2 linked regions of the Homo sapiens genome follow. The protein of the gene in region 1 interacts with the protein of each later gene in a pairwise test. Each region holds a gene or a part of one and is shown in the gene's direction. Other genes may lie near its edges.

Evidence for each region. The genes of interacting proteins can lie anywhere in the genome.
Region 2: the proteins of FUCA2 (region 1) and LCE4A interact in binary tests that used the Homo sapiens proteins (3 or more experiments, as listed by UniProt).

What each region holds. Positions count from the first base shown.
Region 1 is NC_000006.12:143,505,073-143,508,824, reverse strand, and holds part of FUCA2 (plasma alpha-L-fucosidase precursor), read left to right. Parts: intron 1-1,400; coding exon 1,401-1,588; exon of another isoform or gene 1,589-2,855; intron 2,856-3,367; exon of another isoform or gene 3,368-3,409; intron 3,410-3,752. UniProt on the Homo sapiens protein: Alpha-L-fucosidase is responsible for hydrolyzing the alpha-1,6-linked fucose joined to the reducing-end N-acetylglucosamine of the carbohydrate moieties of glycoproteins.
Region 2 is NC_000001.11:152,706,425-152,710,003, forward strand, and holds LCE4A (late cornified envelope protein 4A), read left to right. Parts: upstream 1-1,735; 5' UTR 1,736-1,970; intron 1,971-2,622; exon of another isoform or gene 2,623-2,630; 5' UTR 2,631-2,651; coding exon 2,652-2,951; 3' UTR 2,952-3,010; downstream 3,011-3,579. UniProt on the Homo sapiens protein: Precursors of the cornified envelope of the stratum corneum.

The sequences.
Region 1 (3,752 bases):
GGGGCTTGTTATCTCACATAACAGGAAATTTAGAGTAGTCGGTTCATTGATGAAATCAAAGACACGGGCTCTTTCTTTCATCCTCAGCCTGGGGACTTGTCCCTTCATGGTCACAGGATGGCAGCCAGGCACCATAACTTCACACAACCCTGCCCAAAGGCAGGAAGGCCAGTGTCTCTTTTCATTAGGAGGGAAACCATTTCCACAGTCCCCAAAGTTGGCTTTCCCTCAAGTTCCCTTGGCCAGCATGGATCTCACATCCCTGTCGCAGCTGTAGTGGAAGCTGGGAAATTACGTAAATACGACTTTTGGGCAGGCAAACAGCATGCCTGCCGCATAGTATGCCCTTCAATTATTTCTTCTTAGCAGAGTCTCCTGATCGTCTTGGGAAATATAGTGCTGATTATGGATTTGCTTATCCTGTAGAAATACTCATATGAAAGGAATGGTGATAGAAAAAGCAGGAGGTGGGTCAAAAATGGGGGTTGCATCTATTTCATGAGGATAGTTACTGCTGTGTTTATCTAAAATGTGTAGATGTGCTTTTCCTCATGAAGTCTTGCTTACGCAGTTTAGGGTCAATATACCATTGCTTAGAATGAATGCGTATAGCAAGTAATTGTTGAAGGTTGAGTCCATTTATTAAAATAACAGCATCTTTTTAATTTTACTTTTGCCTCCCTTTCTGTCCTGTGCCTCCAAAGTGTTCTCTACTACTGAATATAATAGATGCATATTATGTTTTAGGCATGTAGTCTTCCTTTTAGAAGCCCTAATCACTTATGTTACAAGGGACAATGTGTAAAGACATATACTACATGTTGTGATTTAAAAGTGAAGAATTAAAAGAGAATGGGGCTGGACACGGTGACTCATGCCTGTAATCCTAACACTTCGGGAGACTGAAGCAGGAAGATCGCTTGAGCCCAGGAGTTTAAGACCAGCCTGGGCAACATATGGAAACCACATCTCTACAAAGAAAAAAAAAATAGCCAGGTGTGGTGGCACGTGCCTGTGGTCCTAGCTACTCAGGAGGCTAAGGCGAGAGGATTGCTTGAGCACAGGAGGTCAAGGTTGCAGTGAACCATGATTCCATTACTGCATTCCAACCTGAGTGACAGAGTGAGACCCTGTCTTAAAAAAAAGAGAGAATGGGTAGCTGAGTTGCCTAGAATGCTCTAGTTTATGAGCTGAGTGGATATCACAGGGGGATAGGTGGAAAATGAGAGGGGGTTTAGTTTGCATAAGCTATCTTTAAAGCCAAGTCAAACTAATGGGGAAGTGAGAAAGAGAATCTGGGTCCTATCTGTGTGAGGGGTAAATGGTAAGGGGAGCTGGAGCAGTTCTTTTAAATATGTGTGTATGTGCTGTTTATGCACTCTTTCCTTTCCTCCCCTTAGGTGGTATTGGCAAAAGGAAAAGATACCGAAGTATGTGGAATTTATGAAAGATAATTACCCTCCTAGTTTCAAATATGAAGATTTTGGACCACTATTTACAGCAAAATTTTTTAATGCCAACCAGTGGGCAGATATTTTTCAGGCCTCTGGTGCCAAATACATTGTCTTAACTTCCAAACATCATGAAGGTAAGTCAATCCAGCCTATGGAAATTGCTGACAATGGTTAAGAAATGAAAAGTTGTTCTTTTGGAAGAAAAAACTAAAGCAAGGTCTAATTTTCTCTTCGGAGCAACCATAAGTGGTGACTGGCACTTGCTTATGACTTAGGGACTGCACATTCAACCCAAATTGAGAGATGTTAGGAATACAGAAAGGATCATACCCGCCACGTAACAGAGGAAAGATGGTCACGTTTTGTCACATGTATTTTGAACAATATTTCCAAGATTTACTTAAAGCTGTTTGTTGAAGGGAGTGTGGGTTGCAAGTCAAAGTTCATCTTGGAATTGCACTCTTTCCTTCCCCTTCTCTGTAATGCATCCTGTGAATGCATCATGGGGATTATACTGCTATAGTCTTGCATCATTACGACACACCTGGCTGCACTTTTAGCCAACTCTTAGCTGGCCAAATGGTGCAAATAGTGGATGAACTGATAGTGATGAAAGTGATGAAAGTGACCCAGATCACCTGGAGGGAAAAGGATTGTGGAACTGTAATGGTTTCCAGAAAAATCAGAGGTGGTAGAAGAATATCTAAACCCCCACACATTTAAAATCCATTCTATTTTAATAGAATGGATTCCACCCATTACCACTCCAGTATTTGTAAGGCCAGGGAAGCATTAACAAATTGTTTTTGTTCCAACGGCTTGTTCATTCATTAGTTTCTTTTGCATGATCATCTTTGCCTTGGTATAAAAAAATTTGCACTGGATGTGGTCGCTCATGTCTGTAATCCCAAAATTTTGGGAGGCCGAGGAAGGAGGATCATTTGAGCCCAGGGGTTCAAGACCAGCCTGGGCAACATAGTGAGACCCTGTCTCTACAAAAACAAACAAACAAACAAAAACTAAAAAATTAGCGTAGTGGTATGTCTCTGTAGTCCCAGCTACTTGGGAGGCTTAGGTTGGAGGACTGCTTGAGGCTGCAGTGAGCGGAGATAGGCTTACTACACTCCAGTCTAGGTGGCGGAGGGAGATCCTGTCTCAAAAAAAAAAAAAAAAAAAAACGGGAAACTTTGCCTTATTGTTTTCTCCAGGGATGGGATGGGAATAGGAGAGGAGAACCAACACAAAAAATCTGGAATGATCATAGGATATTTTTCCCTTTGGCCACATTCTGGTAGCTTCATGATTTTCTCCTGTAGATATTTATCCTGCTGAGATGAATGTCTATCAAGTGTATTTGCTTGAGAACATGCTGATTTCCTGATGTCTAGGAACTTTCCCAAGCTGTATGGCACAAAACATTACATAGTGAGTTTATTTAATAAAAATTGTTAATCAAACTGTGAGGAGAGATGATGTAGCCCACATGTATACATTTTCTGGGACCCATGTTGTCAGATGTTTTCATTGCTCATGGAAAATGCATACTAAGCTCAGGAAGGAACGTCGCAGTGTAAGCTTATGGTGGTGATATTCAAATGAAGACTCAAGTGGTTTTAGTACTGTCTGACATTAGGGCCTGTCAAGTTGAGTAACTTTGAGTATGACTTTAGATATCAACACTGCTCTGAAGCTTACCACAGAAATGATAGGAACAAGAGTGAGCTGTTTTAAAAAGCTTATTAAAATGAATCTAAGGCTAGGTGCAGTGGCTCACATCTATAATTCCAACACTTTGGGAGGCCAAGGAAGGAGGATTGCTTGAGGCCAGGAGTTTGAGACTGGCCTAGGCAGCAAAGTGAGACCCTGTCTCTGAAAAAATAGACAAAATTAGCTGGGCGTGGTGGAGTACACACCTGTAGTCCTAGCTACTTGGTAGGCTGAGGTGGGAGCATCACTTGAGCCCAGGAGGTCGAGGATGCAGTGAGCGAAGTTCGCACCACTGAACTCCAGCCTGGGTGACAGAGCCAGAACCTGTCTCAAAAAAAAAAAAAAAAAAAAAAAAATCGAAAGTATGAGTCATTCTTAGACTTGTTCTAATTTACCAAGAGTAAAATGTTTCACCAAATGTACCTTATAAATGTCTATTCTCAAAGATTCTTTTAGATTTTAGTGGAATAGTAACAATGTATTTAAGTCTCTAGGCACTGATGAAATTTTTGAGGCTTTCATATTTATTATGTTTTAAGTATTTCAGTTTATATATCTCTTCTAACATTTTTATATGGAACAATCAGTAAT
Region 2 (3,579 bases), on another chromosome or scaffold:
TTCAGACAAGTTATATTTCAAGGGCTTTATCATCTCATGTGGTTAGTGGCTACTGTATTGTGCAGAGTAGGGCTACACCAATAGCTTTCATCTCTGTTTGTGCAACACATTCAACTTGTGACCTTTTAAAAAACACCAATGCTGGGGCCCTATTCCCAGAAATTCTGAATTAATTTGTCTACAGTTGAGTCCTGGCATCTTTTGTTTTAGGACTGCCTACTAGGACCACTGGTGTCAACCCTGAAATTTTCCTTTAATCACACCGTGTTTCTCTTGTGTTGAGGTTCAGCATCACTATCTAACTTCTCAGGTGTTTCTGTTTCTCTCTCCAGTTCTACTCTGAGGTCCTGAGGACAGGAACAAGGTTAATTCATTGTATTTCTCACATAACTGAGGCAGTGCTGGTCACAGATTAAGAGCTCAATGTGGTAGGTTGTTGCTTGTTACCACATCCCTCTATAGCTGATGATTTGCTTGCCAGAAACACCATTAACATGGGGCACTGGATTGGGAGAGAGATGGAAAATGGGAGGACATTCCTACAATAATACTTGCCAGAAAATCTGCCTTCCACAACAATTCCGTTCCTGCTGTCTAATACTCATTTTCTGAGTTAGTAATAGCAGAAATTACTATAAAAGTAGGTAATTTCTGTCTTTACAGAGAGGAAATATAGGCTGGGGGTTTAGTCATCTTCCTTGTCATCATTATCAATGTCTTCATGTTCATTAATATCAGCTAACTTTTGTCATTGTTAGACATCTATTTTGCATAGTAGGTATTTCCAGAAGTACCTCGTGATTATATGTGTATATACGTATAACATATATGATATACATAAGGAGAAATAAATCAATCTTAATGGGTTGCATGAAGAGTTGTATCCTATATAAACCTTTTGAGAATTAGAGCAACACACACCAAATTTCTTTTTCTTGTTGGTTTAGAGTGTTTTGATGGGTAAAAGGGAAGAGTTTTTTCTATGATGGGAAAAATATTTTCCTCATAATGATCTTCTTATATGTTTGTTGAAGAAAAAAAATCAGTCCTTTTTTTAAAAAATGGTTGCAATAAATGCAACTTGTGTGTGTGTGTGTGTGTGTAGTTGACAGACAGATACTTCCACAAAAGGTTCCTGAATTGGTAAAAGTCTCAAGTCTCTGATCTGTGCTCATGAGCTACTTAAATGCAGCAGAATCACATACACAACACACAACAGAAAAACTCAGAAACTCCTACTCAAAAGGCCCCTTGATGGTGACACATTCCTTGGTAACCCAAATAGAAGTAGTCAAATATGATAGCCTTTGAATTCCAGGCTGAAGGGTTCATAGAAGAGAAATTCTAAAGAGAAGAGTGGCTGACCGAGGGGCATCTCTCTCCACAGTTAGGACTGGGGACTTGGCCTGGTCTAAAAGCATGGGAGATACTCTCTAAAAGAGTAAGGAGGCCTATGGCACCAAACCAGCCTCTCAGGATTGACTGACCTGGGAAAGGCCCAGAGCCTCTGGCTGAAATTTGGCTGGAATATGTTAGGGGCTAAATGTGGGGCAGTCTTGGAGCCTTTGGTGCCAAAGTTCTTCCTGAGGGACTGAGCAAAGCGTGTTCAGAGGGAGGCTTGAAAGGTAAGTACCCATAGCCTTAAACCCCTCTGTTTGCTGTACATTGAGACCTTAGCCTGGGAAAAGGGTCTGATTTACAGAAAGTCTCATATAGTCACCCCCTCTCCCACTAGTGCCGAAGAGGCTATCTGGGAAGCTCATCATCCAGCTCAGGAAGAGATGAAACCAGGAGGCAGGAGAATGTCAGGCATGACCCCACACTTGTGCAACAGCCACGTCCTGCTCCTGCCATTAGCATGGCTCATCCGAGGCCCAGCCCCAGGATCCATACAAAGTGTGTTCCTGCTGCTGGCTTCTCATCTGCTCTGCTTCCTAAGGGACGTATCTGTTGCTGCGTCTGAACCCACGGTGAGTGTTTCTATAGGAATCCAGAGGGGGACGCTAGCGGGATGAAGATGGAGATGGAGAGTAATTCTGGAAGTCGAACAGTGAAGCGTGGAGTAGGAGGAGGATGACATGGTGGACAAGGCCAGAAGGCCAGAAGTAGTAGTTGGCTCTGGACAAAGCAGGAACCAACCTGGGAAGGATTATCCCTGTGATCAGACAGGAAGATGATGAATGACCTGGGATTGCTACATCCCTACCAATGGTTGGCCTGCTGGTCCTAAGCCCATTGCTCTGAAGGAAGCTTTTCTCTAACCGTGCAGATCTCAAATTTATTATTATTTATTAAACAGATTTTCTACGAATTTCTGAATTCCATTTCTAGATAAATTCATGTGGGTAGAATTGCAATGTATTTAACATGTCTTTGAGATGGCATTCAAATTTTGCTGGCTTTATTAGCTCAGAAGTCACTTATTAACCACCTAACAAATACTAAGAATTTTTGAAAGCTCTAGGGGTACAAAAGTAATGAAGATATACTCTTTGTCTGAAAGAGGTTTCTATACATGTCCATATTTTAGATATTCCTCTTCATCACCTTGGGGGAGGATTTTAAAATAAAAAAAAATGTAATGGCTCTTGATATTAAGTTTCTGTATATGTTTCTATTTTGTCATTCAGGTTTATCGAAATCCCACCAAGATGTCCTGCCAGCAGAACCAACAGCAGTGCCAGCCCCCTCCCAAGTGTCCTATCCCCAAGTATCCCCCAAAATGTCCCTCAAAGTGTGCATCCTCATGCCCACCTCCAATCTCTTCCTGCTGTGGCTCCAGCTCTGGGGGCTGTGGTTGCTGCAGCTCTGAGGGAGGTGGCTGCTGCCTGAGCCACCACAGACACCATAGGTCCCACTGCCACAGACCCAAGAGCTCCAATTGCTATGGCAGTGGCAGTGGCCAGCAGTCTGGGGGTTCTGGCTGCTGCTCTGGAGGGGGCTGTTGCTGACCTGGACCAGGAGCAGCACCAAAGGAATTAGTGGGCGAAGGACCCATTGCAGCCTGGTGTTTTACCTCCTTCACTCTCTTGCCTTTCCTTTCTGTAGCCCCATCAATTGAATAAACATGCAGGTTTGCGTCTCATCAACTTCAGGCCTTGGATTTGCATTATTTTAGCTTTATGTCAATATTTATATTTCTCAGATTATTGAAAAATTTTCTGATGTGCTTTGCAACAGTAAATTTACTTTCAAGTAATTTTCTAGTCCCAGTTTGATGGTGGTTTTTATTCCACTTTTCTTCACTTTTACCTAAATCCCAATCCTTTTCCTAGATAGAAAGATAGATTTATAGCTTTTACTGAAATAGAGAAAAATCAACCAATTAAACTTTAATGAATTACTTATTTGTGTACACATACCTTCACGAAAATCTAAAATTCTGCAGTATTTGTGAAAACAATAAATAAGGATTGATTAGAATTCCAAGATAAACCTAACTTAAATTTAAAAAAAAATTAGTGGTGAAATAGCCAAGTCAGTAAAGTTGTTTGGACAGAAAAATCTAATTTACTTAAGTTAAAAAAATGTACTTACTGCTCCATACATTTTCTAAAGCAATATTCTCTTTCTCTCTGT